Regions from separate parts of the Homo sapiens genome. Here region 1 is linked to region 2. The links come from fine-mapping of genetic effects on gene expression. A gene starts in region 2. The other region holds a variant in brackets. All regions are shown on one strand. Distances are between the middles of the regions.

What was found. PIP is the estimated chance that this variant, and not a neighbour inherited with it, causes the effect.
Region 1: its variant is fine-mapped to the expression of ABRAXAS1 in whole blood (TOPMed, PIP above 0.99). The same link has a PIP of 0.9 or more in blood mononuclear cells.

What each region holds. Positions count from the first base shown.
Region 1 is chr4:83,438,091-83,454,788 of GRCh38, reverse strand. HELQ (helicase, POLQ like) reads left to right here. Exons shown (of 18, transcript NM_133636.5): 2 at 844-1,558; 3 at 5,828-6,006; 4 at 7,754-7,954; 5 at 8,703-8,775; 6 at 11,175-11,272; 7 at 13,386-13,484; 8 at 14,781-14,926. Among named protein-coding and RNA genes, the nearest start is that of HELQ, 9.4 kb to the left of the region's middle. The variant T/A (reference allele first, on the strand shown) is at 8,183.
Region 2 is chr4:83,481,051-83,497,192 of GRCh38, reverse strand. ABRAXAS1 (abraxas 1, BRCA1 A complex subunit) reads left to right here and starts at 12,093. Exons shown (of 9, transcript NM_139076.3): 1 at 12,093-12,207; 2 at 14,949-15,039. The coding sequence starts at 12,121. RefSeq lists a silencer at 11,878-12,367.

The DNA.
Region 1 (16,698 bases), 43 kb after region 2:
CATTTCAGTAGACGTCTACCAGTCTTCCTGCTGTTTTAGTACAGCTTTAAGAATTACAATCTGGCCGTGTGCAGTGGCTCATGCCTATAATCCCAGTGCTTTAGGAGGCAGAGATGGGAGGATCACTTAAGCCCAGAAGTTCGCGTTCAAAACCAGCCTAGGCAACAGAGACCCAGTCTCTACAAAAAAAAAAAAAAATTTTTTTTTCTTAATTAGCCGGGTGTGGTGGCCTGCACCTGTAGTCCTAGCTACTTGGGAGGCTGAGGCAGGAGGATCGCTTGAGCCCAGGATGTCAAGACTGCAGTGAGCTGTGATCGTGCAGTGGCTGGAGCCACTGTGCTCCAGCCTGGGTGACAGAGCCAGACCCTGTCTCAAAAATTAGAATCTCAGTATCATCGTAACACTCCTGAACCTGCTGTTTAGGCAAGTAATTTAACCTCTTTGGGCCTCCATTTCTTCAGCTGTAAGATATCTATTTACATATAGGTCTGTGATCCATATGTGACCATATAATTATATACTTGGTACAGCCCTAGGCTGAAGTGTTTTTTGGGGGTTTTGTTTGTTTGTTTGTTTTGGTTTTTTTGAGACAGAGTCCCACTCTGTTGCCCAGGTTGGAGTGCAATGGCGCGATCTGGGCTTACCGCAACCTGCGCTTCCCAGGTTCAAGCAATTCTCCTGCCTGAGCCTCCGAGTAGCTGGGATTACAGGAGCATGCCACTATGCCCGGCTAATTTTTGTATTTTCTGTAGACACGGGGTTTGACCATGTTGGCCAGGCTGGTGAAGCTTTTATTCTTAATGAAACTGGAATTGACCATAAGCGTTTTTGTTCTCTTTGCAGCCTAATGACAGTGAAGTGGACATGTTTGGTGACTATGATAGCTTTACTGAAAACTCCTTTATAGCTCAAGTTGACGACCTGGAACAAAAATATATGCAACTCCCTGAACATAAGAAACATGCTACAGACTTTGCCACTGAAAATCTTTGCTCGGAAAGTATCAAAAACAAACTCAGCATTACTACCATAGGCAACCTTACTGAATTACAAACTGATAAGCACACAGAGAACCAGAGTGGATATGAAGGTGTCACTATTGAACCTGGAGCTGATCTTTTGTATGATGTACCTTCCTCACAGGCTATATACTTTGAAAATTTGCAGAACTCTTCAAATGATTTGGGTGATCATTCTATGAAAGAAAGGGATTGGAAGTCATCCTCTCACAACACTGTGAATGAGGAACTGCCCCATAATTGCATAGAGCAACCCCAGCAAAATGATGAGTCCTCTTCCAAAGTCAGAACTAGTTCAGATATGAACAGGAGAAAAAGTATTAAAGATCATCTAAAAAATGCCATGACTGGAAATGCGAAGGCCCAGACACCAATATTTTCTAGAAGTAAACAGCTCAAAGACACTCTCCTATCTGAGGAAATTAATGTTGCTAAGAAAACAGTTGAGTCATCATCAAATGACCTTGGTCCTTTTTATTCATTACCCAGCAAAGTGAGAGACCTTTATGCCCAATTCAAGGGAATTGAAAAATTATATGGTAATGCTTTTTGCTGGAATAAAAAAATTTTTTTCCTATCATTACCATAATATTAGTGCAAGTAAATAGAAGCAAATGCTTTCATGGTCCATACTGTTTCTCATTTTGAAAACAAAAGATCAGTGATCTCTCAGCCCCTTCCATTCCTACCTGTCCTGCTACCACTGAACCTCTTTCCTTCCCTCACAGTCACACTTATCAAACCAGTTATCCTTTCTGTCTGTTTCCTTACCTGACATAATTCCTCTAATTCCTCATCTATAAGAAAGGGATAATAAGTTGTTAGCAAGTCAGATTCTGGTTCAAAGACATGCCAAATTCAATGTTGGTAATGATTTTCAATAATTATATTGGTAGCTTCTAAGTAAGAACTTTAGTAAATTACCCCACTCTAATTCTGGGTTCTGTGCTCTCATTCTCTCACTTAAGATCTGATGACTGAGACGTCTAAACACAGTGTTACTTTTAATGTTTACCTTACCTGACTTCTCAATAACTTACCTGATGCTATTGACTACACCCTTCTTGAAATTCTTGTTTCTGGATGTCCTTACAACCACTCCTGTTTTTTGACCCCGATTGTCTAGTAGAGATCCTCAGCTTTCTTAGTTGTATTTCCTTGGCTGGCTCTGTCTTCTCTACCAAAACCTAGCTGTTGTGGTATGTCTTTGACACTCACATGTCTTGAGTGAAAGAAGTCAGTTATTAGTAATACTGTTGATTAAACCAAACATCTTTCCCCCCACACCAGCAGCCGCAGCTACCTCTCCCCACGGGTGCATCCCTGCCACCACCCAGATGCTCTGCCTTGTGCTGCCTTTCCCAAAGCTAGACATCTTTAAAGACAGCTGCAATTAAGTTTTAAGTCAGGGATGTCCAATCTTTTGGCTTCCTTGGGCCACTTTGGAAAAAGTATTGTCTTGAGCCACAATAAAATACAGTAACACGATAGCTGATGAGCCAAGAAAAAAAATTGCAAAAAAAAAAATCTCATAATGTTTTAAGAAAGTTTACAAATTTGTGTTGGGCCACATTCAAAGCCATTCTGGGCCTCATGAGGGCCGTGGGTTGGACAAACTTGTTTTAAGTGCAAAGAAGCAATAATATTAAGAAGGTATCTTGTAATGTTTTTCAAAAATCCAGGGTCCTTGCATATATTTCAGATATGTGTCATTTTAGACCAAGAAGGGACAGTTGCTGCCATACTGGAGGGTCAGCCCCATCAACCTTCCACTTCGTAAGTTTTCTGGAACTCCTGTTAGGATCTTATGAATGATATGAAAACTTGGGTTCTTGCAGAGAAGACAATCAGGTTGGAGAAGCAGAACTACAGGAAACAAAGTCTAATAAAAGACTCTACAAGAATCCAAATTGTGAGGTTCATGACTTAAGAGCTAATGGTGTGTGTTGCCCTGGAAGTAGACGTTAACTTTCTTCCCTCTGTTCTTCCCTCTGTTTTTCTGCTAGCACCTTGCTTTTTGTTTAGTCTGCCAGAATGAATATCCTGAGGACAAGGCTCTATCTAACTCATCTTTTTGTTTTTGTTTTTGTTTTTTTGTTTTTTTTTGAGACGGAGTCTCGCGTGTTGCCCAGGCTGGAGTGCAGTGGCGCATCTCAGCTCACTGCAAGCTCCGCCTCCTGGGTTCGCGCCATTTTCCTGCATCAGACTCCCCAGTAGCTGGGACTACAGGCGCCCGCCACCACGCCCGGCTAATTTTTTTTTTGTATTTTTAGTAGAGACAAGGTTTCACCGTGTTAGCCAGGATGGTCTCGATCTCCTGACCTTGTGATCCGCCTGCCTCAGCCTCCCAAAGTGCTGGGATTACAGGCGTGAGCCACCGAGCCCGGCCTAACTCATCTTTTTCTTAACTAGCACTGTGCCTGGTATACTCTGGTAGGTTCTCAACTGCTGGGGATTGTCACTTAAAAATGCAACCTTAGCACTTTGGGCCTAGTTCCTCATCTATAAAAAGGGATAATTTTTTTTTGCAAGTTAGAGTCTGTGTTAAGGACATGCCAAATTAGATGTTGGTAATGATTGTCAGTAATTACATTGGTAGCTTCTAAGTAAGAACTTCAGTAAATAACAACTTTTTAAATCTTTTTACCTCTAAATCTGGCTTAATAACATGACCAGATTAAAGCATAAATGCATGTGCTACTTTTTATTAAGCTAAAGCGGTGGTTCTCAAGTGTGGTTCCTGGACTGCAGCATCAACATCACCTGGAAATTTGTTGAAGTGCATGTTCTCAGACACTTCCCTAGACCTACTGCGTCAGAACCTCTAGGAATACGACCTGGCAATCTGTGATCGTGGCTCACTACAGCGTCAACCTCCCAGGCTCAAGCAATCCTCCCACTTCAGCCTCCCAAGTCGTGGGGACTATAGGCATGCGCCACCATACCCAGCTAATTTTTTTATATTTTGTAGAGATAGGGTCTCATTTTGTTGCCTAGGCTGGTCCTGAACTCCTGGGCTTAAGCAGTCCTGCTGTCTCAGCCTCCCAAAGGGTTGGAATTACAGATATGAGCCATTGTACCCGGCTAGTTTTTTTTTTTTTTTTTGATGTGAAGATTGTATTCATAAATATTAGTTATTTTGTCATGTTATGCTTAAAAATCTGAATTGGATAAAATGTGGCTATGGTTAAGTTATACTTTGGCATAAACATCTAATTTGATAACTCGGGTGATACCAATCTGAAGTATTTTTCAATATTTATTGAATATTAAATTTAAGTATTTTTGAAATATTTTTAAAGAAAATATTCACAGTCACTTGTAGTATTTGGGAATCACCCAAAAGCACAATAAGTTAAAGTTACTTGTAACTGTCATTCAGATATAACTTTCTTTTTTTTTTTTAATAGAGATGGGCTCATCTTGAAATCCTGGTCTCAAGTGATCCTCTTGCCTTAGGCTCCCAAAGTGCTGGGATTACAGACATGATCCACCACTCCGGGGCAATGATCTGCTTTTTTTTTTTTTTTTTTTTTTTTTTTTTTTTAAACTTAACTGTATATTGAACATACATAGATCCATCTATTCTTCATTTTTAAACTGCAAAGAATCTCATTGGTTGATTGTACAATAATTCATTCGGCCTTTACCCCCACCACCATGGCACTTTGTTACCTACAAACAATGCTGTGTTTTATATGCTTTGGCTTCCGTTCTATAGATGTAGAATCCCAAAAGTAATACTACCAGATCAAAGGCAATGTGCAGTTCTATTTTATACTAGGTTACTTTCCACAAGGATTCTAGCAGTTTATGTTCTCACAACCGTACATGAAAATGGCTGTTTTTCCCCACATTAGTCAGCTCTGGATTTTGCATGTGTGGGGCTTTTTTTTTTTTTGATAGTTATTTGTTTTTTATTTTAAAAATTTATTTTGCCAACCCAGTAGAGAACAGCTGAGCATCTTCTCATGTATTTATTGGCCATTTGCATTTCTGCTGCTTATTGGCCATGTATTTATTGGCCATTTGCCGTCTGCTGTGAAATGTCTTAAATTTTTTGCCCATTTTTCTAGTGATAAAACACTGAAGCACATTTTTAAAGACTTCTGATGATTTTTATTGTCAGATTATCCTACAGAGTAATTAATACTAGTTTTCACACGGTATCTTGGATCTGATCTATTTTCATGAATCCCGCCTTGCCAAATTGTGGGAATCCTAGGCGTGTCAGTTAATAATCCTAGTCTTTTGTGGTTTAAAGAGTTTTAACAGTTTAAAATGGTTTTGGACCCATTCGAAGTTCAGGTCTCCATGAGAGCTAGTTAAAGTTTTTATTAGTTTGTGTAAAACCTAATAGATTTGTTTCCCTCCTTCCCCTGCTTCTCTCTGAGATGGCTTTTGGCTGAATGAGGAAGGGAAGCTTATATAATCTCCTTGCAGAACATAAGAGGAAGACATTCGAATTCACACAGGTCCTTGTACTGTCCCTTTGTTCCTCTGATATCTCAGATGGCACTCCTTGTCCACGAGGCTGCTACCTGCCCTGCTGTAATATTGGACCCAAGTCTGCAGCTGGTGAATAAATGGGCTGGTTGCCCACCTTGCTGCCTAGGCCTGAACTAGGCTCTCACTGGCTGTACTACTTGCACATTTGGGATTTTTGACATGTAACATTGGTTATAATTAAATTTATCCTTATGAGAGGATTGCTCCACAGGAAGGGATTTGATTTTTTTTCTTAGAAAACTTTTGAGTTTCAAAGTTTGGAAGGGGAAAATAATGCCTTTTTTTTTTTAATTCCACAGAATGGCAACATACTTGTTTAACATTGAATTCTGTGCAAGAAAGAAAAAATTTAATATATTCCTTGCCAACAAGTGGTGGAAAAACCCTCGTGGCTGAGATTTTAATGCTGCAAGAACTGCTTTGCTGTCGGAAAGATGTTTTAATGATTCTTCCATATGTGGCAATTGTCCAAGAAAAGGTGTGTGTGTGTGTATGTTTTAAAACAAATGTTATTTGCTAGTACTTTGACGTTAAGATCTGTAAATGTGATAACTTTGTATTGTTGAGAAGTACCTCTTTTTTTTTTTTTTTGAGATGGAGTCTTGCTCTGTCACCCAGGTTGGAGTGCAGTGGCACCATCTTGGCTCACTGCAACCTCCGCCTCCCAGGTTCAAGCGATTCTCCTGCCTCAGCCTCCTGAGTAGCTGGGATTACAGGCCCATGCCACCATACCCAGCCAATTTTTGTGTTTTTAGTAGAGGCGGGGTTTCACCATATTGGCCAGGCTGGTCTCAAACTCCTGATCTCCAGTGATCCACCCGCCTCAGCCTCCCAAAGTGCTGGTATTACAGGCATGAGCCACTGCGCCTGGTGAGAAGTACCTCTTAATGATGGAGAATTAATATTTTTAGAATGTATAAAAGCAGTATACACTACCTAAAATATCTTCAAATACTAATTACCAGTTGTTGAAAGTTTTACTTTTTCTAAACTGGTGGATTAAACATCATCTTAAATGTTCTATTACTATTTACCCTGCTTTTTCTTTTTTGAGATGTAGTCTCCCTCTGTCGCCCAGGCTGGAGTGCAGTGGCACAATCTCTGCTCACTGCAACCTCCGCCTCTTGGGTTCAAGTGATTCTCCTGCCTCAGCTTCCCAAGTAGCTAGGATTGCAGGTGTGTGCCACCATGCCTGGCTAATTTTTGTATTTTTAGTAGAGATGGGTTTTCATCATGTTGGACAGGCTGGTCTCGAACTTCTGACCTAAAGTGATCCTCCCACCTCGGCCCCCCAAAGTGCTGGGATTACAGGTGTGAGCCACTGTGCCCGGCCTTACCTTGCTTTTTCAAGCAGAAACTATTACTAAAATGAGTTATTCTGATGCTTTTTTTTTTTTTTTTGAGACAGTCTTGCTCTATCACCCAGGCTGGAGTGCAGTGGCATGATCTCAGCTCACTGCAACCCCCACCTCCCAGACTCAAGTAATTCTCATGCCCCACGACCCCACCCAGCAGCCAGAATCGCAAGCACACGCCACCACGCCCGGCTAATTTTTTTATTTTTGGTAGAGATGATGTCTCGCCATGTTGGCCAGGCTGATCTCAAACGCCTGTCCTCAAGTGATCCACCTGCCTCAGCCTCCTAAAATGCTGAGATTACAGGCATGAGCCAACACACCCCTGATGCTTTTTGGTATCAAAGGCGCCAGTTGAAATTTATTTTCACATGTATTTTAGAAGTTGCATTTATTTTGCAAAGATCGAGACATTACAGCATTTCTTACGTATGTCTTGCCTGTGACCTTGTTCCTGTTGATGGGTATTAAACACTACTTTAGCTTTTTTGAACCCCATGAGCACCTAATGGGGGGTTTTTTACTTGTGTTTTTTGGTTTTGTTTATTTATTTATTTTTGAGTCAGGGTCTTGCTCTGTCGCCCAGGCTGGAGTGCAGTGGCATGACCAAGGCTTACTGCAGCCTCAATTCTCTGGACTCAGGCAGTCCTCCCACCTCAGCTTCCCAAGTAGCTGAGACTACAGGCCTGTGCCACCACAGCCAGCGAATTTTTTATTTTTTATAGAGATGAGGTCTCACTGTGTTGCCCAGGCTGGTCTCACCTTCCTGGGCTCAAGTGATCTTCCCGCCTCAGCCTCCCAAGGTACTGGGATTACAGGCATTGGCCACAATGCCTGGCCAATTTTTCTTTATTTTAACTAATATTCTAGATTTCAGGTTTGTCAAGTTTTGGTATAGAACTCGGTTTCTTTGTTGAAGAATATGCTGGAAGCAAAGGAAGATTTCCTCCAACTAAAAGAAGGGAAAAGAAATCACTCTATATTGCCACTATTGAAAAAGGACATAGCTTGGTGAACTCCTTGATTGAAACTGGAAGAATTGACAGTCTGGGTCTGGTTGTTGTAGACGAGGTTGGTTAATACTTTTGTAATTTGTCAATATTTTTATTATACTAAATATTTATTATTCTGGTTATTGTGTGGATCTACTTAGTACCTTAGTACCTCTATAAAAATAAATTTATTTGAAAATATAGACAATATAGGTGAAGACATTCTATGCTTGATAATCTTAAATTTGGTTTTGTGTCAAGTGTTTCTTGAAGTGTGAACACGTATGTGTGTAGTATACAATTTTAT[T/A]GGCTGGGCGTGGTGGCTCATGCCTGTAATCCTAGCACTTTGGGAGGCCGAGGCAGGTGAATCACTTGATGTTAGGAGTTCAAGACCAGCCTGGCCAACAGGTGAAACCCTGTCTCTACTAAAAATACAAAAATTAGCCGGGCGTGGTGGTGGGCGCCTGTAATCCCAGCCACTCGGGAGGCTGAGGCAGGAGAATCGCTGTAACCCAGGAGGTGGAGGTTGCAGTGAGCTAGGATCACGCCATTGCACTCCAGCCTGGGGGTCAAGAGCCAAACTCCGTTTAAAAAAAAAATTTTTTTAGTAGTACTTATGAATCCCAGATTTATAAGGATTTTGTACCAAAAGCTCATTAACCTAAATACCAGTGAAATAATATACATGTATTATAGTTGTTATATTCAAAATACTTAAAAGTTATAAGCAACTCTTTACAAACAAATTTCATATGAATATATGCATGTTTTATATGAGCACTATATGAAGATTTACTTCTCTGTCCTTTTTAAAAAAAATCTCGAAGTTGCACATGATTGGTGAAGGAAGCCGTGGAGCTACACTGGAAATGACCCTAGCAAAAATCCTCTACACTAGCAGTAAGTATTTTTTCAAATGAGGTCATGAATTGATTTATAATCAAGAGACTTATAAAATACTTAATTCTATCACTAGCTACAGTATGTAACCTAAAGCAAGATACTTAAGCTTTTTGCCTTTGTTTTAAAATTTCTAATGAATAGAATTTTGAAGGTAAATGAAATTGGTATTTGAAGAAGTCCTCTATTATTATCCGCCACTTACTAGCTATGTGTGCCCAGGCACATCCCTCAACCTCTATGTTTCTTTATCTGTAAAACAAGGATAATAATGGTACCAGCCTGATGGGATTGTTGTAAGGATAGTGTGAGTTAACACATGTATTGCATTCAGCAGTGCTTAGCACACTGCATTCAGTAAGGGTTTGCTGCTGCTACTGTGGCCATCATCATCATCACCATAATAATACATATAACATAAATATTATAATAATAATATTGTAAAGCGATACATTTAAATAGGTCAGTTTAAGGAGCTATTTTGCAGCATCAGGTAGTCTTTAAAGTTTATGAAAAATTTATTCTAAATGTCATAACCTACTATTGATATGCTATTGCAATATTTACCTTATATATGGAAAAATTAACTATAAAGGTCAAATCTTAAAAAGTATTTAAAAAATTTCAACAGCAATAATATTTAAGCAGGTTATAGCATTTTATAATTGTTCATTCAAAAAAATATTGATCACCTACTGTGTGCTAGGCACTATTTTAAGTGCTAGGGATACAGCAGTGAATAAAATAGTCCCTGCTTTCATCAAGCCTGTATTTTAGGGCATCCCTATTTGAATATTCTCTGAACAGCTAAGCCTAACTAAGGCTTAGTCTGAGCCAAACTCATTTCCTTCAAAGCCGTTCTTCAGCCTGAATTCTCAGCCACCACTCTCCAGCCAGCCAAGCCAGGGTCCTACATATTCTATCAGCAACCAAATCCTATCTGGTTTACCTCATAAATATATTGTTACTTCTGTCTCTCCTATCCCTCATTACCACTAAGTCTTTAGTTCAGTACCTCATCCTTTCTACCTGGATTGCCACAGAAATCACCAAGTTCTTCTGTGTACCCACTGCCCTTCATCCACCAAATCCATCTTTCTTTAGCGCAAGAAGAATGATCTTTCCCAAATGCAAATCCAATTAGTTTATTTTACTGTTTACCATTCTTTAATAGCTCCCCTTTGCTTTCTGCATAAATCCCTAATTTCTTAGCACAGCCTTTCTTGATTTGACCCCATGCCCACCTCTTCAGCTTTGTAGTCTATCCTTATGGAATGAGAAGGATACTCCCACTTATTCCTCTTTCAGTGAGTTTCTTGAATGATCATTTCAAGACATAGGAGCAATGAAGAAACATTTGCAAAGAAGGCCTATTTGGGTTTTCATTCAATAGTTAAGTCTATAGAAAGCAGCCATTTTGTATTGCCCAGGATGTCATATGGCTTCATAAGCTTCACTCCACCTTTATTTAAAACAACATCAACAAAAACTATAGTCCCAACTACTCGGGAGGTTGGGGCAAGGAGAACTGCTTGAACCCAGGAGGTGGAGGTTGCAGTGAGCCGAGATCATGCCACTGCACTCCAGCCTGGGCAACAGAGCAAGACTCTGTCTCAAAAAAATAAATAAATAAATAAAATTAAAAGTTAGCTTGATAGCAAGATCTCATAGAGGACTTTTCATGGGCCAAGAGTTCGAGACGCATTTAGCCCTCTATCCTACTACCTCTACATCTGTCTATAGCCATACCTGTGGAACATATCATAGCTCTTCGTAAAGGGGATCCAGATAGACAGTTATAAGCAGATTTATACTCATTTATTATTGTTTAGAAGCCTTAATATCCTAGTTCTTGCCAAGTTTGAAACTCTGTAAACTTCTAAGTAGTAACTTTCAGGATACCTGAAAAATTTCATTCTTCAAATGCCAGATTAATACTCTGGTAATATATTTGTAGTTTTCTTTTTTTAAGAGGTCAGGTCTCACTGTTGCCCAAGCTGCAGTGCAGTGACACAATCATGGCTCACTGCAGCCTTGACTTCCTGGGCTCAAGCGATCCTCCCACCTCAGCCTCCTAAGTAGCTGGGACTACAGGCGTGCACTACCATGCCCAGGTAATTTTTAATTTTTTTGTAGAGATGAGGTCTTACTATGTTGCCCAGGCTAGTGTTGAAGTCCTGCCCTCAAGCGATCTTCCCACCTCAGCCTCCGAAAGTGTTGAGATTACAGATGTGAGCCAGGCACCCAGCTATTTGTATTTTTCTTACTTACCTCTCCCACCCCTTTCCCAAATCACTCAGGAAGAATTCAGAGCACAAAAGACTTGCTAAAATTACTTTATGATATATTAAATAACATATTTTCCTTAACACTTTGGCTTTTGTTTGTTTGTGTTTTAGAAACGACTCAAATTATTGGTATGAGTGCAACATTAAACAATGTTGAAGACCTACAAAAGTTTCTTCAAGCAGAATATTATACCAGTCAATTTAGACCAGTATGTACCTAAGGTTTGCACTGTATTGATTTGTTTCGTATTCATCTAACTTAGAAATGAAAGTAGTAAACATAGGATTTAAAGAATTCTGTAGAGTAGTGAAGGGGCATATTTTACTCACCATGACTATATGCTAATAAGAGGTTGTGTATAGAGAATTTAAGAGTTTGTGTATAGGTCAGGGATCTTGGGTTGGGTCACTAATGTATCTATAGCCTGGCCCACAGGCTGTCAATGAACGTTCATTGAATGAGTTTTCCCAAACCCCCATTTTATTTTTTCACTTCTTATTCTGTAAACTAAATTTTTTTATTTGGCAAAATTTTAGTGAGACATGTTTTGAGTTATTGGCACATTAAAAAATATATCTTAAAATTTAAAATATTTTTAAATATTTATATGTTAGTAGTTATAATACTTTTTTAATAAGTTAAGGCTTCACATGGATTTACATATAAACTCCTCAACAGCAGCATTCCCAAAATGCTTGAAGAAAGTAAACAAATGTAATTTGTGGTTATTTGAAAATAGCTTGTAATGTATATATATTTTTGTGTGCACTACTAGTGTGTATGTTTTGTGCCTCAATAGTTTTTCAGTGTCTAAATAGGTTTTCAGAAAATATTTTTTTAATTGCCAAATTTTAATTTGAAATTTGATGTTTTAGCTGGGTGCAGTGGCTCACACCTGCAATGCCAACACTTTAAGAGGCCGGGGCATGAGAATTGCTTGAGTCCAGGAGTTCAAGACCAGCCTGGGCAACATGGCGAGACCCCTGTCTCTACAAAAAATTAAAAAATTAGGGCAGCCAGGCGCGGTGGCTCACACCTGTAATCCCAGCACTTTGGGAGGCCGAGGTGGGCAGATCACGAGGTCAAGAGATCGAGACCATCCTGGCCAACATGGTGAAACCCCGACTCTACTAAAAAATACAAAAATTAGCAGGGCATGGTGACGCACGCCTGTAGTCCCAGCTACTCTGGAGGCTGAGGCAGGAGAATCGCTTGAACCCAGTGGGGCGAAGGTTGCAGCAAGCCGAGATTGCGCCACTGCACTCCAGCCTTGCAAGAGAGAGAAAAAAAAAATTAGAGCATATTAGCACTCACATATAGTCCCAGCTACTTGAGAGGGTGAGATGGGAGGATCACTTAAGCCCAGAAGGTTGAGGATACAGTAAGCTGTGTTTGTGCCGCTACACCCCAGCCTGGACTACAGAGTGAGACCCTGTCTCAAAAAAAAAAAAAAAAAAAAAAAAATTGATGTTTTTACATTTGAACCAGATAGGAACATTTTCAAGAGATATTTTTTAACTTAATTGCCACAGTAGACATTGTTATTGTTATTATAAAATGCAATGAGCTGTGTTTACAAACTGTTTTTGTCGACAAATAAAGAAAAATAGTGTGGTGGTATTTAGAATTAAAACTGATGAATAATAAGACAGAAAGTTTTGGCTGGACACGGTGGCTCATGCATGTAATCCTAGCACTTTGAGAGGCTGTGGCAAGAGGATCGCTTGAGCCCAGGAGTTCAAGACCAGCCTCAGCAACATAGAGGAACCCCATCTCTATAAAAATTAGCCTGGCGTGGTAGCGCATGCCTGTCATCCCAGCTACTCAGGAGGCTGAGGTAGGAGGATAGCATGAGCCCTGGAGGTTGAGGCTGCAGTGGGCTGTGATCATGCTACTGCACTCCAAGCCTGGGTGATAGAGTGAGACCCTGTCTCAAAAAAAAAAAAAAAAAAAAGACAAAGTTTTAGATCTTGAGACATAAAACAGATGATACCTTAGTAAAAGTTAAGAACACCAAGACTCACACTTTTTGTGACAAATACAGAAGTGTGTGGTTTCTTTTTTGGATATGATGTTTACTGAATTCAAACATATTTCTTCAAGGATATTGATCTCTATTTTGATTTTAAGGGAAAAAGAGACCAAAACAGAAGAAGAAGAAATGGTAAAGCAAGAACTTTTAAGTTGAAGCATGTTTTATGTATCTTAGAAAAGCTAAACTCTTTTATAGCTGTCCTTTCTTAACCTATTTTACAATATTTAAAACACTGGAAAGATGAATTTATATGTCGTATTAATTGCAAATGTCCTTTTAATTCAAGGTTGAGTTAAAAGAATATCTGAAAATAAATGATACAATATATGAAGTTGACAGCAAAGCTGAGAATGGCATGACTTTTTCACGTCTTCTTAATTATAAGGTAACATTGATAACATTTAAATTCCAGGTTACCAGACTTTGTGTCTGGGGCACAACAAGAGTTTCCAATGGATTCCGTAGAATAGTCTAGATTTTTCAGAGAAACAGCTGATGCTTGACATTTGTTGGACACCATGCAGACTGCCAGTTCAAGATAGCTCGTTTCCAGTTTCAACATTAGATCACACCATATTCTTTTCTATGACATCATATCTTTGTGAAGTTGGGGTTTTTACAGTTGCTGTAAGCAAGTACCGTGTGAAAATCAATCTGGAACAGAAGAGAATAGCTGTGTCCAGTCTTATTTCAGATTTTGAAAGACAGTACCAAGTTGTGCACACATCCCATTAGTGAGCTGTTGTGGTTATTTAAGAATGAAATAAAAATATTTTTTCACTCAACTGATGTGTATTATTTATTCTAACAGCTACTAAATTGTGAGGAAGTACGTATTTATTAAGTTGTTTGGACCTCACTATTTAATTAACAAAACTGTAAAGTATTTCTTTGGGCCCTGGGGCTGTGAACAAAGAAAATTTGGAAAACTCTCCTGTAAATGTTTATTCATACAACAACAACAACAAAAGAATAATTTATGGACCATGTAGTTCAGATATTGGTGTATAAAATGTTAATGTCTACTATGTAAATTTTAGTGTTTTATGACTTGTATGAAGGATATTAAAAAGGGGAAGAAGGGATTATACAGTAGTTTTAGAATTCTGTGAAGATGTGTTATTCTACAGCTATGTCTTTAGTAAAGTTGAAGAAATAGATTTTAAATAACTTCACATTTTTTCTTCATGTTCTTTGTGTTCCTCATGTGACTACAAAAATTGTCATAATTCAGTAGTATGATTGAATCTGTGTTTTTGAAAACTTAATGGTTGTAAAGGGCATGTCTTATTTACACAGTCCGTTAACTATTATTAGGATCAATCTGTGTTTCTCTCTGTGGACTTTTTTGTTCTGCTGTGGTGGAGATGGGCATGTAGTGAGGCTATTAATAACATTAACTATTTTCACTTCTTTAATTTTCTTTAATTCACTTGTTTAATTCTAGGTTTTTTTTTAGACTAACTAGACCTAAGAAAATCATAATAACCTAAAAGAAAAGTGAGATTGAACATTTTGATGTTTAATATAGATTTCATCTTTTCTTTTAAATGATCAGATTTATTAAATTAGAAGTTTAGAATTATAGATGGTTTATTTACCTTTCAAATCACACTGGTAAAAAATTGACAGGGTTTCATGTTTACTAACCACTTTGTTCCTACATCTTGTTGTTTTGCAGTATTCTGATACCCTAAAAAAGATGGATCCTGATCACTTGGTAGCATTGGTGACAGAAGTTATTCCCAATTATTCCTGCTTAGTTTTTTGTCCTAGTAAGAAGAACTGTGAAAATGTAGCAGAAATGATATGCAAATTTTTAAGCAAGTATGTTAATATTTTTTAAATAGCCTGTTTTATTTTTATTAGGAATTACAGACTATGTATTAATTTTATTGGGCAAACACTAATTATGCCTTGCAAAACATCATATTAAGTTGTTTTAGTATACTGAAGGCCTTGACCTTGAAGAAAGAAATTTTAACTGTGAAAAATCACATGTGAAATAGCCAGAGAAACATTCTAAGGTGGCTGGGCACCATGGCTCATGCCTGTAATCCCAGCACTTTGGGAGGCCGAGGTGGGTGGATCACTTGAGGTCAGGAGTTTGAGACGAGCCTGGCCAACACGGTGAAACCCCATCTCTACTAAAAATACAAAAAATTAGCTGGGTGTGGTGCCTTGCACCTATAATCCCAGCTACTGGGGAGGCTGAGACATGAGAATCTGTTGGACCCGGGAGGCGGAGGTTGCAGTTAGCTGAGATCGCACTACTGCACTCCAGCCTGCGTGACACAGCGAGACTCCATCAAAAAAAAAAAAGAAGACCAGGCACGGTGGCTCATGCCTGTAATCCCAGCACTTTGGGAAGCCAAGGTGTGCGGATCATGAGGTCAGGAGTTCAAGACCAGCCTGGCCAACATAGTGAAATCCTGTCTCTACTGAAAATACCAAATTAGCTGGGTGTGGTGGCGTGCACCTGTAGTCCTAGCTACTCGGGAGGCTAAGGCGGGAGAATCACTTGAACCTGGGAGGCAGAGGTTGCAGTGAGCTGAGACCACACCATTGCACTCCAGCCTGGGTGACAGAGGGAGACTCAGTCTCAAAAAGAAAAGGAAAAAAAAAAGACAAAACCCTAAGACTATATGTATGAGAATGTTAAGTAATATTAGGTCAGTGATTCAAAACCTTGGGTGCATAGTGAATCATCTTGGAGGCTTTTAAAAATTCCAAAGTCCAGGCTACATCTTAGACAAATCAGAATCTCTGGGAGTGACACCCAGATATCATTTTGTAAAGCTCCCCAGGCAAGTCCAACATATAGCCAAGGACAGGAACAACTGGCTTAGTCAGTCAAAGGACTAATCACTGTTACCACTGTGGAAATGAATTGTATCTTCCATTGCCTTTTTTTCTCTTTTCCTTTTTTTTTTTTTTTTTTCCTGAGACAGGGTCTCACTCTGTCACCTATGCTGGAATGCAGTAGCACAAATTCAGCTAGCTCACTGCAGCCTCTGTCTCCTGGGCTCAAGTGATCCTCCTACCTCAGCCTCCCAAGTAGCTGGGACTACAGGCACACACCACCACTCCCAACTAATTTTTTGTAATTTTCATGGAGATAGTATTTCACCATGTTGCCCAGGCTGGTTTCGAACTCCTGAGCTCAAGCAATCCGCCCCCCATAGCCTCCCAAAGTGCTGGAATTACAGGCGTGAGCCACTGCGCCTGGCCTGCCTTTGTTTTCTTAGTAAACTTCACACTTAGTTGTATGGACATTTGGATATAATTTCCTGAGTAAGAAATGTGTTGTCTTATAATTTTGTAGTATCTTAATATTGGCTCTGTCGTATTCATAGAGATAAGTATGAAGTTACTTTAACTACTAACAGTTCAGTTTTTTATACACCTGTTTGTCCCATGTGTGGTTTTATCATTTTCTGAGATTTCTTTCAGCCCCTTAGCTAATGCTGTATCACTATTCATAGTCTATTAACCTGAATGCTAATCTAGTCAACCTCTACCTCCTCTTTCAATCCTACTATCATGGATTGGTCTAAGATAGACTTAAATTTATTGAATAGCAAAATATAAAAATGTTT
Region 2 (16,142 bases):
CTCAATAGCAAAAAACAAAACAAGAAAACGTCTGATTATAAAGTAGGCAAATGATCTTAACAGAAAGTTAAATACCGCATATTCTCACTCACATGTGGAAGCTAAAAAAAGTTGATCTAATAGAAGTAAAATGTGGAACCAGAGGATATTAGAGACTGGGAAGGGGAGGATAGGTAGAGATTTGCTAAAGAATACAAAATTACAGCTAGATAGGAGGATAAGTTCTAGTGCTCTGCAGCATTGCAGGTTGCTTATAATTAACAATAATGCGTTGTATAGTTTCAAATAGCTAGAAGAGAGGATATTGAATGTTGCTCTGTGTGTGTGTGTTTGTGTGGGTGTGTGTGTGTGTTTTAAGATGGAGTTTTGCTCTGTCACTTAGGCTGGAGGGCAGTGGTGCAATCTTGGCTTACTGCAACCTCCACATCCCCGGTTCAAGCAATTTTAGTGCCTCAGCCTCCCAAGTAGCTGGGATTACAGGTGTGCACCACCATGCCCAGCTAATTTTTGTATTTTCAGTAGAGATGGGGTTTCACCATGTTGTCCAGGCTGGTCTCAAACTCCTGACCTCAGGTGATCCCCCAGCCTCCGCCTCCCAAAGTACTGGGATTACAGGCGTGAGCCACTACGCCTGGCAGGATATTTGCTAGAGCAGGAGCACCGTCATCTCGGACAAACACCACCACTTTAAGTTCCAGCTCCCTTTCTAGCCTCATGCATTTCAAGGAAATCACTTCTCTTCTAACTACAAGCAGCCAGAAAGAGCAGACAGTAAAACACAGATAAGACCGCTTGGAAACAGAGGGAGGTGAGGAGAAAGTCTCTTGGGTAACTGCCAAACTTCACCCTCATACAATGGGCCCCAGTAAGACAGTGGGCCTTAATAAGCACTTTTCTTTCCCTTCAGGAATACTAAGATAGAGAAGCTAAAAGCAGACTTGGGGGATATGCCTGCAGCTGCAAAAAGGTGTATGGGAATAGAAACGCAACTGTCCCTCCCAGATAAGCACAACAAAGAGACACAGAAGCAGTCCAAGCCTCTTATAAACTCTCCTATCCTGAATCTTTAGAAACTCTTAGTCTGTTAGAGAGTGTGGCTCTGACCTAACTCAGCCAACCGCCCTTCTCAGGTTTATTTAAAATAAACCTGCCCCTGTTGACTGAAAAGCCATCCTTTGTGTTTCTCTCCTCTTTCTTTAATTCTTACAATATTAAATGTTGTCAACACAAAGAAATGATAAATCTTTGAAATTACCAATATGCTAATTACCCTGATCTGATCACTATGCATTGTTTGTATTAAAACATTATGTAGGGCCGAGCGCCGTGGCTCACTCCTGTAATCCCAGCACTTTTAGAGGTTAGGCGGGCAGATCACGAGGTCAGGAGATTGAGACCATCCTGGCCAACACAGTGAAATACCGTCTCTACTAAAAATACGAAAAATTAGCCGGGCGCGATGGCGGGCCCCTGTAGTCCCAGCTACTCGGAAGTCTGAGGCAGGAGAATGGCGTGAACCCGGGAGGTGGAGCTTGCAGTGAGCCAAGATTGCATCACTGCACTCCGGCCTGGGCAAAAGAGCGAGACTCCGTCCCCCCCAAAAAAAAAAAACATTACGTAGCCCATGAATGTATACAATTATTATTTTTTAAAAAACGAAAAAAACATGTAATATTGACAGCAACTAATTAGATGAGTTTTGTAGCATTTTTAGCTTCTATCCATTCAGTATTCTTTTTTTTAGACAGAGTCTGGCTCTGTCACCCAGTCTGGAGTGCAGTGGAGCGATCTTGGCTCACAGCAACCTCTGCCTCCTGGGTTCAAGCAATTCTCCCGCCTCAGCCTCCCTAGTAGCTGGGATTACAGGAGTGTGCCACCATACCAGGCTAATTTTCGTATTTTTAATAGAGATGGGGTTTCACTGTGTTGACCAGGCTGGTCTCGAACTCCTGACCTCAACTGATCTTCCCACCTCGGCCTCCCAAAGTGCTGGGATTACAGGCGTGAGCCACCACATCCAGCCCATTCAGTATCTTTTTATAATTAAATTTAATTTTTTTAAGTATGTTTTTTATATATATGTTTATACATATTATATATGTGTTTATATATTTTATATATGTTTATATATAAAACATAAATATATATTTATATATAAAAATATAAAAACTATATATAAAATATATATAAACATATAATGTATAAACATGTTTATATATTTTTTAAATATTTATATATAATTTATATATATTTATATATAAATATACTTATAAAAATTATATATAATTTATACATATTTATATATAAATATACTTATAAAAATTATATATAATTTTTAAAAATATATATATAAATATATTTATAAAAATTATATATAATTTTTAAAAATATTTATATATAAACATATATATCAACATATATAAAAAATATATATAAACATGTTTATATATATATATACATGTTTATATATATATATATATATATATATATATATATATATATATATTTTTTTTTTTTTTAGACAGAGTCTCACTCCGTTGCCCAGGCTGGAATGCAGTGGTGCAATCTCAGCTCACTGCAACCTCTGCCTCCCAGGCTTAAGCGATTCTCGTGCCTCAGCCTCTGGAGTAGCTGGGATTACAGGCGCCTGACACCATGCCTGGCTAATTTTTGTATTTTTAATAGAGATGGGGTTTCACCATGTTAGTGAGGCTGGTCTCCAACTCCTGGCCTCGGCCTCCCAAAGTGCTAGGATTACAGGCCTGGGCCACCGGCCATTTCCACAATGTTGTTTTTTTTTTTTTTTTTTGAGATTGAGTCTTGCTCTGTCGCCCAGGCTGGAGTGCAGTGGCGTGATCTCAGCTCGCTGCGACCTCCACCTCCTGGGTTCAAGCAATTCTCTTGCCTCAGCCTCCTGAGTAGCTGGGACTACAGGTGCATGCCACCACACCCAGGTAATTTTTTGTATTTTTAGTAGAGACAGGGTTTCACCATGTTAGCCAGGATGGTCTCAGTCTCCTGACCTTGTGATCCGCCCACCTCGGCCTCCCAAAGTGCTGGGATTACAGGCGTGAGCCACCACGCATGGCCTTTTTTTTCTTTCTTTCTTTCTTTCTTTCTTTCTTTCTTTCTTTCTTTCTTTCTTTTCTTTTTTTTTTCTTTTTTTTTTTGAGACACAGTCTTGCTCTGTCTCCCAGGCTAGAGGGCAGTGGCACGATCTCGGCTCACTGCAACCTCTGCTTCCTGGGTTCAAGTGACTCTCCTGCCTCAGCCTCCCAAGTAGCTGGGATTACAGATGCCTGCCACCACTCTCGGCTAATTTTTTGTATTTTTAGTAGAGACAGGGTTTTGCCACATTGGCCAGGCTAGTATCAAACTCCTGACCTCAGGTGATCCACTCGCCTTGGCCTCCCAAAGGGCTGAGATTACAGGTGTGAGCCACCGCACCTGGCTGTTTCCACTCTTTTAAGATAAATTCTGGGCCCGGCGTGTTGGCTTACACCTGTAATCCCAACATTTTGGGAGGCTAAGGTGGGACGATTGCTGGAGCCCAGGAGTTGGAGATCAGCCTGGGAAACATGGCGAAATCCTATTGCTACAAAAATTAGCCTGGTGTGGTGTTGCATGCTTGTAGTCCCAACTGCTCAGGAGGCTGAAGGGGCAGAAACACCTGAACCCAGGGAGGTTGAGGCTGCAGCGAACCATGATCGTGCCACTGCACCACAGCCTGGACAACAAAGTGAAACCTTGTTTCAAAACCAAAAAGACAAATTCTAAAATCCTATGCTACAACAGCCAGCATGGTCTGGCCCTTCTCACTAGCCAGCTTTTACCTCCTGCCTCCCTCCCTCTCACACTCCAGGTTTTAGAATCTTCTAATTGCCTCAGGGTGTTCACACATGGTGTTCCTTTAACTGAGAACACTCCTCCCCACTTCTTTTCCTTTTCCCAAGTATCCAGGTCCTTGAGAAGACTTTCTCTGATCCCAGCAATAGGGGAGTGGGTATCTCAGTTACCCTTGCTTCTAGTTTTCTATTTTTCCTACTACGTATTTATTAGAATCGTAATTATGTCATCATATGAGAGATGATGTATGTAATTTTCCTTTCCCCCACTGGATTATAAATACTATTAGGGCAGGCACTATCTCTATTTTGTTATTCAATGTACCTCCAGCAACTAGCACAGTGCCTGATGTAAAGCAGGCAGTCAATAGCTGTGAATTCATGACCATAAGGAAAGTGGAAAGCAAGATTTTTGCCCTTTAAGAGATGAGAATTTTCCTAGGGAAAGAAAAAAAAATCCAGGAAACACTTAGCTGTGCCCAACTATGCCCAGCAGTTCAATAATTAAGAACCAAAATGCCAGGTACAGTGGCTCACAACTGTAATACCTAATCTCAACACTTTGGCAGGCCAAGGCGAGAGGATCACTTGAACCCAGGAGACTGAGGCTGTAGTGAGAAGCTGGGCAACAGAGCAAAACCTAGTCTCAAAAAAAAAAAAAAAAAAATGACATGGCCAGGAAAGATATCATAAATCCAGGGTAAGTTTTTTTAATACAGATTAAGGTGATGCCTTTTCCAATGATTAAGTCTCTAAAGATTTAGTCGTCCTTCTCTTCCTGATTCAGAGAGGGAGATACACTTACAAATAGATATTTCCTTTATAGCTTTAAATTTCTCTTACAAAAGGGTAACTTTCCAGAACTGCTCCTATGTCTGTCGTTTCTCAAAATAACCAGCTCAAAATAATTCTTATGACAAAGAGGCATATTTGGGATAGCACATTCTGGATTCTACAGTCCTATTTTGGGGTGGTGTGTCCTGAACCCCATTAATAAGTTTAAATTACAAAAATTAATAATAAAGTATAATATGTATTTTTAAAAGTGAAAATAGATTTTGATTTTTAAATGATTTTCACTCACACCTGTAATCCCTGCAGTTTGGGAGGCCAAGGCAGGAGGATTACCTGAGCTCAGGAGTTCAAGACCAGCCTGGCCAGTATGGCGAAACCCCGTCTCTACTAAAAATACAAAAATTAGCTGGGAATGGTGCTCACCTGTAGTCTCTGCTACTTGGGGGCTGAGGCAGGAGAATCGCTTGAACCCGGGAGGTAGAGGCTGGAGTGAGCTGAGATAGTGCCACTGCACTCCAGCCTGGGCAACAGAGTGAGAATCTCTCAAAAAAATAAATAAATATAATGTAATATAATATAATAATCAAAATATACACAAATACCTATATACATTAATACACATATGAATAGATAAAAACCTGAAAGAATATAAGCCAAACCATTCACTGTAATATCTTTGGATGGAAGGATTATGGGAACTTTCTCTTATTTCATTATATAAATATATAACATACTTTTTGTCTGTTTGTGACAGCACGTTGCTCTGTTGCCCAGACTAAAGTGCAGTTGTGCCATCATAACTCACTGTAACATTAAATTCCTGGGCTCAATTAATCCTCCCACCTCAGCCACTCTAGTAGTTGGGATTACAGGTGTGAGCCACCTCACCCAGAGGCAGGTGCTTTTTTTGTTTAACCCAAGCCAGTCACTTATTCATTATTTAAACTAGCGTAAATTATTCACTGAAGCTATAGAAATTAATTTTCTACCAGAAACAACCTTATACCTAGAGTTGTCCATACAAGCTCAGATCAAACTAATGCCTCTTGGAATTTTCTATCTGAATGCCTTCTCAGGATTAGCTGAACTGACACTGCTGAAACTTTTACTTTGGTCTTGGAATTTATCCTAAGGAGGACTCTGTTGGAATTCAAATTAGCTTCTTAACCCTGTCTGCAATAATTCTTAAAGCATCAGTCAGCACTACTATTTCTGCAGTTACTTTATCTCCTTTGCCAGAGTTCTATTGTTTTTATATTTGTGGATGTGCAAGGGTATTTTTTTAAAAAAAAAACAATGATTCTTATCCAAGATACAGCATTTAAGTCATTTTTACTAAATCACCATGGATTTTCAAAGTAGCCTATTTTAACACATTATAACAGATTAAGCCCTATTAACTATTTTTACATAATAATAATCTCTGAACCCCAATCAAAGGCCTTTTCCTTCAGAACTACTATCACAGTGTCCCCTGCAGGTCACCAGGTAGAGGTGCATCCTGAGGGGGCATATTTCTTAACGGTGTTTGTGTAATTTTCCTTATGCCTCTTTAACAGATGGAATGAAATAATAACAAGTTGGAATGTTATCACATTAATACATCTTCAAATTTCCCTGGAACCTCAGATAAATTTATTTCTGTGTCTATAATCTTAGAGTTATATCAAGTTTTATCAGAGATTTTTAAAACTCTCATTACGTTTTTAATACACAAAAATATTACAAAGAAAACAAAATGTGTTTATAATAGTATTTCCCAGATAACATAGCCTTAACAAATAATACTTATCTAGGTGCAGTGGCTCACTCCTGTAATCCTAGCCTTTTGAGAGACTGAGGCGGGAGGATTGCTTGAGCTCGAGAGTTCGAGACCAGCCTGGGCCACATAGTGAGACCTCCCCATCTCAACAAACCATCAAAAAATTAGCCAGGGATGGTGGCATGTACCTGTAATCCCAGCTACTCAAGAGGCTGAGGTGGGAGAATCGCTTGACCCTGGGAGGTGGAGGCTGCAGTAAGCCATGATCACACAGCTGTACTCCAGCCTGGGCAACAGGATTGAGATCCTGTCTAAAAAAAAAAAAAAAAAAAAAAAAAAAAAAAAAAAAAAAAAAAAAAATTAAAATAATACTTGTTCACCATTAGAAATAAATCATGTCTATAATTAAAAAATGAAATTCATCATATTATATTTTGAGTATGTTTGTATTTGAAGTTTTTTTTAATTGGCAGATATTTGAAAATGTGATCTTTATGGCTCTGAAAGCCCTTTATAGGTGATATGGAAAAGCAAGCACTTTGTTTCACTTTTGATGCTCTGAAAAGCAGACACAAAGACAGGAGTCCATGTGCAAGAGAGAGACCTATTGGGGAAATGTCTGTGAAAGATAAAGGGAAGAGAGCAGGAGTAAGCAAGGAGAGGCTGCAGAAAACCATGCTTATCTGACACCTGGGAAAGGAGGAAGGGAAGGATAGGAGTCTCAGACTTCAGTGCAAGCTAACATAATCTTAGCCAGGCTGATGGAGAGTCCTTGAGCCAAAGTCCCATTACAGGAATCCTGCATCTTATAAGAATGGGCCTGTGTTAATACCCCACCATGGTCACTGATGCTGTGGCAGGGAAGGTTAGAGGGCAGCAATGCTCACAGGAGCTGAAGTGGGAGGCTTTCTGCCAACCGTGGCTCCCCCAGCAGGTTCAACCAGAGTGGAGCATGTCCATGGCCATCACATTCTCCATTCATTTTGAATAAATAGTATAATTAATAATATGCTATGAAGATAAGATATATTTCCCTTTATGATACTCATTTATTTGCAAGCATATTTGTTTAAAAGTTGATCTGTTGTGAGTGAAATCATTACTTAAAAATCATATTCTTATCCTTTTCATGCGAAAAAAATCAATATCTAAAAATTCAAATAGAAAAGTAAAAGATACAGTTTTTTCTTGCAATTATTTGAGGTTCCATTAACCCTCCTATTTAAAATAGAATACCAAAAATTTAACAGAGATGAATATTATTGGATCCCAATTTAAGCAAGCAAGCACATCCTTCTGAAGCAATCAACCCTATCATTAACATGATTCTAATACAGCAGCTAAAATGTTTCTCTTATTTTCATAGTTATTCTTCTTTCTAATTTTTTTTTTAAGAGACAAGGTCTCATTCTGTTTCCCAGGCTGAGGTGGCACAATCAAAGCTCACTCCAGCTTCAAGCTCCTGGACTCAAGCAATCCTCCCGCCTCAGCCTCCCCAGTAGCTGGGACTACAGGTGTGCACTACCACACTTGACTGATTTTTTTTTGAAACTGGGTCTGGCCCACGCTGGAGTACAGTGGCATGATCTCAGCTCACTGCAACTTCTGCCTCCTGGGCTCAAGCAATCCTCCCACCTCAGCCTCCTAAACTGCTGGGATTACAGGTGTGAGCCACCGTGCCTGGCCAACTAACTTTTTTAATTTTTTTTTTTTTTTTTGAGACAGAGTCTCACTCTGTTGCCCAGGCTGGAGGGCAGTGGCACAATCTTGCCTCACTGCACCTTTGGCCTCCTGGGTTCAAGCACCTCTGCCTCAGCTTCCCGAGTAGCTGGGATTACAGGCACACGCCACCACACCTCGCTAATTTTGTATTTTTAGTAGAGACAGGGTTTCACCATGTTGGCCAGGCTGGTCTCGAACTCCCGACTTCAGGTGATCCACCTGCCTTGGCCTCTCAAAGTGCTGGGATTACTGGCGTGAGTTGGGATTACAGGCACGAGCCACCACACCTGGACTAATTTTTTGTTTGTTTGTTTTTGTTTTGAGATGGAGTCTTGCTCTGTCACTTAGGCTAGAGTGCAGTGGCGTGATCTCAGCTCACTGCAACCTCCGCCTCCTGGGTTCAAGTGATTCTCCTGCCTCAGCCTCCCAAGTAGCTGGGATTACAGGTGCCCACCACCATGGTCAGCTAATTTTTGTATTTTTAGTAGAGACGGGGTTTCATCATATTGGCAGTCTGGTCTCCAACTCCTGACCTCGTGATCCACCCATCTTGGCCTCCCAAAGTGCTGGGATTACAGGCATGAGCCACCGCACCTGGCCTAATTTTTTAAAGTTTTTGAAGACATAGAGTCTTGCTATGTTGCCCAGGCTGGTCTCAAACTCCTGACCTCAAGCCATACTCTCTGCTCAGACTCCCAAAACACTGGAATTACAAGCATGAGTGACTGTGCCCAATCTTTTTGTTTGTTTGTTTGTTTTTGAAACAGATTCTCACTCTGTTGCCCAGGCTGGAGTGTAGTGGAAGGATCTCGGCTCACTGCAACCTCCACCTCCCAGGTTCAAGTGATTCTCCTGCCTCAGCCTTCCAAGTAGCTGGGATTACAGGCGCACGCCACCAGGCCTGGCTAATTTTTGTATTTTTAGTAGAGATGGGGTTTTGTCATGTTGGTCAGGCTGGTCTCAAACTCGTATTTCAGGTGATCTGCCCACCTCAGCCTCCCAAAGTGCTGGGATTATAGGTATGAGCCACTGTTCCCGGCCAGGTATTTCTTTATAGCAGTGCAAGAAGGGACGAATACACTCTCCCATGAGTCATTCTTTAGCATACAAAAACCAGTAAATTCCTAAGGTTTTAGAAGCTCCCACGCCAGGAACTCAGGACAAAGACTAAATATTTATTTTCTTTTTTACTATACTACAGACAAATCCTTGATCTTTGACCACTGATTCCTTATAGCAAAGAATCATAAGAGTTAAAAGATAGTTGCACATTTCTAAAACCCCATTCAATTACTAATAACCTGTCCAGTCCATCAGCCTATCATATGAAAATGCCAGGCCGGGCGCGGTGGCTCACGCCTGTAATCCCAGCACTTTGGGAGGCCGAGGTGGGTGGATCACAAGGTCAGGGGATCAAGACCATCCTGGCTAACACGGTGAAACCCTGTCTCTACTAAAAATACAAAAAATTAGCCGGGCGTGGTGGCGGACGCCTGTAATCCCAGCTACTCAGGAGGCTGAGGCAGGAGAATGGCGTGAACCCAGGAGGTGGAGCTTCCAGTGAGCCAAGATCATGCCACTGCACTCCTGCCTGGGAGACAGAGCGAGACTCCGTCTCAAAAAAAAAAAAAAAAGAAAAAGAAAAGAAAATGCCTCCCAGGGTGTGGCCACTCAGGCTTCCATTTGATCTTTTCAGGTTTCAAAAGCAGAGTTCTTAGCAATATATATCTTCATTATTTCAGGCATCTGATATAATTAAGATAAGAGACAATATCATCCCTTGCTTTGAGTTTCTTTGGAGGTCTTAATGAATATTGGATTTCCCTCATTATATAACCCGTTTATTTATTCCTTTACTCTCATCTACTATTTCTCCTTATCTCCACTCATACCCAAGCTTTTTTGGCTTCCGAAGGAGTATTTGGTTCAGCTACTGTGCTGCTCTGGGTTGCAGGAAGTAAAACTAGTGATGTGGTTCAGGACACACTACTCCAAAATATAGCACCTGAGCATTTGAGAAAATAGCAGAGCAAAGAGGTCATTTGCACCTTCCCCTCACTCCTTTTGCCCTGAAGCAGGCCATAAACCATAGAAAGAATACTCTGGCCATCTCCCTTGAGGCAGGCCATAAAACCCGGTGTCCTTCCCTGAAGTAGGTCATAAGACCATCATTTGAGAGGTACCCTCCCTTTACATAGAGAAAAGGAATATCCTTACCTCTGAAGACACCAGGACACAGAGAAGAACCTGAACAAACAGCCCATTCTAAGTTCCCCCAGTTTGTTACCATTACATCATACTCCCTTTGTGTAATCATACTCCTGCACGACTGTCCACTCTTTATCAACCCTACGACAATTGTCTTCCACCCCTTCATTGAAATTTCATTATCTACTGACTGTGGAAAGAAGACTGAAAGTCAAACATCAAATCTAGAGCCCAGAGGAACTTTGTACTAAGTTATTGACTGCTGTTTGGGCTCATCCAACTTCCACAAAGAATTCTTTGCAAGCAATCCCTCAAGCTCATCCAAAGAATCAATTGTGATCCTCAAAATTACTTACATTCCTCCATCTCCCTCTCCCTTATGAAAAAGTGTACATAAGCATCTGAACCTCATTGGATTATTGGGTAATCACTCTACTGTGATTTTCTCCAGGGCACATTAATAAATTTGTATGCCAGTCGGGAGCGCCTGTAATCCCAGCACTTTGGGAGGCCGAAGGGGGCAGATCACCCGAGGTCAGGAGTTCGAAACCAGCCTGGCCAACATGGTGAAACCTTGTCTCTAATAAAAATACAAAAAAAATAAATAAATAAGCCGGGCTTGGTGGCACGTGCCTGTAATCCCAGCTACTCAGGAGGCTGAGGCAGAAGAATCGCTTGAACCCGGGAAGTGGAGGCTGCAGTGAGCTGAGATGGTGCCACTGCACTCTGGCCTGGGTGACCAAGCGAGACTCAGTCTCAAAAAAATAAAAAATAAAATAAATTCGTATCCCTTTTCCTTCTGTTCATCTTTTCTTTTGTTAGTTCACTCCAGTGAACCTTCAGAGGGCAGAGCTTTCCCTTCACCCCTACAAAATGAAGGCAAGAAACTTAATTCTAGGGAATAAATATATAATCATTAATTATATACATATGTATTGTGTGTTACGCAGCCACAGACAACTGCTTGACAACAAAACCCACAAATGTGCCACACTAATTCAGTAGTCTGCTATTATGCTTACTTTCAGTCATTTAAGAAACATACCTTTACGTGTGTGTGTGTGTGTGTGTGTGTGTAAAATACATTTGCCAAGCCCTGGTCCACTCACCTTACCATTTACATTAAATGAACCAGCTTACTATGATTATGCCTATCATTAAACTGTCAGAACATTAAATATCCATGTATTGTTTAAATTAGGCTGAAGTTTTCTAAAAGCAAGGGAACACACACATGCACACACACAAACACACAGACACAGAACATGGCTAGAGAGTTCTAGCAAAGACAATCCCCAAATGGTTATTAGTATTCTGTAAGTTTCAGTGAGTGAAGGGTGCTAAAATGCAGCTTGAAAACCAAAACCGTGGCATATCCACTGTGGCATCGTAATGTTGCTACTCAACTCTTTTATTCTTGTAATCATTGCTTGTCTTAAAATGACCCTGTCAACCGTGTTCATTTTGATAGCTTTGCATGTTTGTGACAGGTCGCTCAGCAGGCGCAGGCCACCAAAAGCAATTCGCAGCCCTCTGCAGTGGTACCGACATGCAGCGGCCTTCCGGGAGAGGCCGGCAGCAGAAGCGAAGGAGGAGCCGAGCGCGCGGCTGGGGACCCGCCCGCGCCCGCCCTCAGCCCCCTCGCCCCGCCCCTCTGCGGAGCGCGCAGCAGCCCGTGCGCCGGCGCAGGCCCCGCCTCCTCGCTGGGCCCCGCCTCGCTGCCACCACAGGGTCTTGCCTCCGCGCGCCCCGCCCTCGTCCTCTTGTGTAGCCTGAGGCGGCGGTAGCATGGAGGGGGAGAGTACGTCGGCGGTGCTCTCGGGCTTTGTGCTCGGCGCACTCGCTTTCCAGCACCTCAACACGGACTCGGACACGGTGAGCCGAGGGACGGGGCGGGGTCCGGCGTCGCCTGGGAAGAGCCCTGCGCGCGGCCTGCCTCCCCGCTGTTGCTCCGGTCCCCGCCCGCTCCCCCGACGCCGCCGCGCCTCCTCCCTGCGGTCGCGGCTCTGCCTTCTCTCCCCCTCAGCGGTCCCTGAGGTGCCTCGTGCCCACGAAGTCTTCTCCAGCATTAGCCCTCCCTCTGCTATCCTCCGTTATTTCCCTTTTCCGACCCAAGTGTCCCACACGCTCCCATCTTTCCTCGGCGCCCCTGTAGCTGTGGAAACTTGGGCGTGAAAAGATGGAAAGTTCACGGAGCGTCTTTCCGCTGCTCTGCGGAGCCTGCGGTAAACTTTCCGTTTCTCGCGACGCCCGACAGGCGTTTGCAAAACCAGGCGGACTTTTTCATGCAGAGCAGCGTCTGTGCGTGTTTGTTGCGATGGTAGGATGGTAAGGGAATAAAAATAGATGTTGCGTCCAGTGGCAAATCTTAGTGGATGGAACAGCTTAATCTGGTATATCAGATATCTTTTTATTTGCGTTATTAAATTTGTTAAAACAGTTTTTAAAAGTACGTTGCCTATTTTCTAAAAGTTCTATGAAATTAAAGAAACGCTGTAAAACGTTGAGCTCGGAAGTAGTTAATGTCCTGTAGCACTTTCAGTAACTTGCAGAAAGAAAGTCTAAGCATCTGAAATACACTTCCCTGCTGTGTGGTACAGTTCGGAGAATACCCTGCTGAACAATGCCTAGTAATTTCTGCTAAGTTCATTTTAAGATATAACGTCTATTTTACTCAAAATTGCCTTAATATAGGTCGGGCGCGGTGGCTCACGCCTGTAATTCCAGCCCTTTGGGAAGCCGAGGCGGGTGAATCACCTGAGCCCACGAGTTCGAGACCATCGGGGACAACGTAGTGAGACCCGGTCTCTACAAAATCTAAACATTACAAAATTGCTCTTTGGCACAATCCTAATAAAGGTTGGAATTGGTATGTTTTATGTATACAATTTCAGATAACCTTACAAAGTAATACCTAATAAAGAACAAATATATGACCATTTAAAATATATGTGTAGCTGTGGAAATTATTTTGGAATACCTGTAGTGTAGATAGAGTGGGACCGTAAATCCTCGGTAGCTTAAACGATTAGCCCTTGGGAAGTACCTGAGTGCTAGGGAGGCCCCTGTTTCTCAGATCTTTTTCCTGAAGTCTTTAAAGGGTGGTTTTTCTGGCTAGTTGCACTTGCATTGCCCCCCTGCTTCCCTTCCCTGAGTTCGTCTTTTGAGTATCAAAATCAAGAACACTAGATTCTGGATATCCCCCCGCGTGATTCCAGTAAAGACTCACATTATGGAAATAATCCTTTTTTACTTTTAGGGGAAAAAAGCATTATTAATTATAAAGAATATAAAATATTTCTGTAATCACAGCACTTTGGGACGCGGAGGCAGGAGGATCATTTGAGCCCAGGAGTTCAAGACCAGCGTGGGCAACATAAGGAGACCTCATGTCTACAAAAAAATTTTAAAAATTAGCCCGGCGTGGTGGCACGTGCCTGTAGACCCAGCTACTTGGAAGGCTGAGGCAGCAGGATTGTTTGAGCCTGGGAGGTCAAAGCTGCAGTGAGTAGTGATTGCACCGCTGCACTCCAGCCTGGGTGATGACAGAGCTAGACCTCTTCTCAAAAAAAAAAAAAAAAAAGATATAAAATCTTCATTGTCAAGCACATTGGGTCTTTAAGTGTGCCTAGAGAAATTGAATTCCCCAAAACTCAGATAAATTACCACTGGGGTGGCAGAATACAAGTAGTTTTAAAAGAATCGGGCTCACAGCACTCCTTTTAGAAAGCAGACTCTGAAATTGAATTTAAATCTTTCATATTGTGCATGAGTTTTAATCAGAAAACACTAATCTTGTCATTTCGTACCTTAGAAGCTTTCTGTAACTCCCAGAAGCACATGTGGTTAAATCCAGAGTAGTCATTCGGGGTGTCCCATTATTGGCTCGTTCTTATTTATCTTTGATTTCCTTCTGCTCCAAGGCAAAGTGCTCTGCTCATTCTTCAGTGTGTGCTCATTTCTGGCTTTAAGTCTTATATGCTTCCAAGTGTGCCCAGTGCTTCATGCTCTGCCTACACAAATATTGCCCATAGCTTTAGTCTAATCTGTAGCCTCCCCAGGGCTACAGGGCTAATCTGTAGCCTCCCCAGGGCTACTCTGATTATTTCAGGCTAGACTAATCTCTTTCCCTTCCTCTCCTCTTTATTTCTACTTTTTTTCTTTTGAGGCAGAGTCTCACTCTATCGCCTGGGCTGGAGTGCAGTGGCGTGATCATAGCTCACTGCAGCCTCAACCTCCTGGGTTCACGTCATCCCAAGTAGCTGGGACTACAGGCATGTGCCACCATGCCTAACTAATGTTTCTCGTATTTTTTGTACAGACGGAGTTTTACCCTGTTGCCCAGGCTAGTCTTTAACTCCTGGGTTCAAACTATCTGCCCACCTTGGCCTCCCAGTGCTAGGATTACAGGCGTGAGCCATCTTGCCTAGCCTCTTCTCATTTTTATTTAACTCTTCATCTTTCCCAAGTAAACTAGAAGCATCTCAGATCTTTCATATGTGCCCCCGACTGGTAGCACATATTGTATACATAGTAAAATACTCAGGAAATACGGTTAGTTAAGTGAACAGTAATTCTATCAGTGTATTCTATATATTGCCTCTTTATCTTCATAGGAAGGTTTTCTTCTTGGGGAAGTAAAAGGTGAAGCCAAGAACAGCATTACTGATTCCCAAATGGATGATGTTGAAGTTGTTTATACAATTGGTGAGTTATTTATTTCTCCTATATTTGAATCATCTGTGTCTCCTATATTTGATAGTTTATGCTGAAAGGGGTCAGCGTAAATTATTATTTTTAAATTAGGAAATACAGAGGCTGGGCAAGGTGGCTCACACCTGTAATCCCAGCACTTTGGGAGGCCGAGGCGGATTACCTGAGGTTGGGAGTTTGAGACCAGCCTGGCCAACATGGTGAAACCCATCTCTACTAAAAATACAAAAATTAGCCAGGTGTAGTGGTGCATGTCTGTAATCCCAGTTACTTGGGAGGCTGAGGCACGAGAATTGCTTGAACCTGAGAGGCAGAAGTTGCAGTGAGCCGAGACTGTGCCACTGCACTACAGCCTGGGCAACAAAGCGAGACTCTGTCTCAAAAAAAGAAAAATAAGAAATATATATTAATTTTAAAATAATTTAAAAGGATATGTTGTACTCATTTTGCAGTTAAAATTATGACCATGGACTGGTCTAAAGTAAGAAATAGTATGAGACTTAGGAAGCAGATAAGATTACTGCCAGGGAAACAAGGATGAAACACCTGCTGTTTAGTAGGAAGATGGCCCGGCAATAGGAAGACCAAGGAAAAAGATAAAATGTTAAATGCTGCAGAAAAGTTGGAAGATGAGAACTGAGAAAATGCAGTAATTAGATTATTAGATGACTGAAAATCCTCAGTAATTTCTGGAGCGTAATGGGGAAGAGACCAGGCTGTAAAGGGTTTGAGGAGTGGGTGCTAAAGCAGTTATAACTGGTGGCAGCTTCTCTTTTAGGGAAAAGCAGGGGAGAACCTTTAAAATGCATAGGGAAAAAAATGGTTAAAAGAAATAAAATGTATAGGGAGTTTTCTGATTGTCTAATATAGTTTTTCTCTATATATGTGTATGTATTTTTAAACAAAATTGGTAGTGTACTTTATAAAAGGTTTGGCATCATATTGTGTCATGATCACTTTACAATGTTGCATAATCCTCTACAATATTATTTTTCATTTCTTTTCTTTTTTTTTTTGAGGCAGAGTCTCACTCTGTTGCCCAGGCTGGAGTGCAGTGGCGCAATCCCGGCTCACTGCAACCTCCGCCTCCCAGGTTC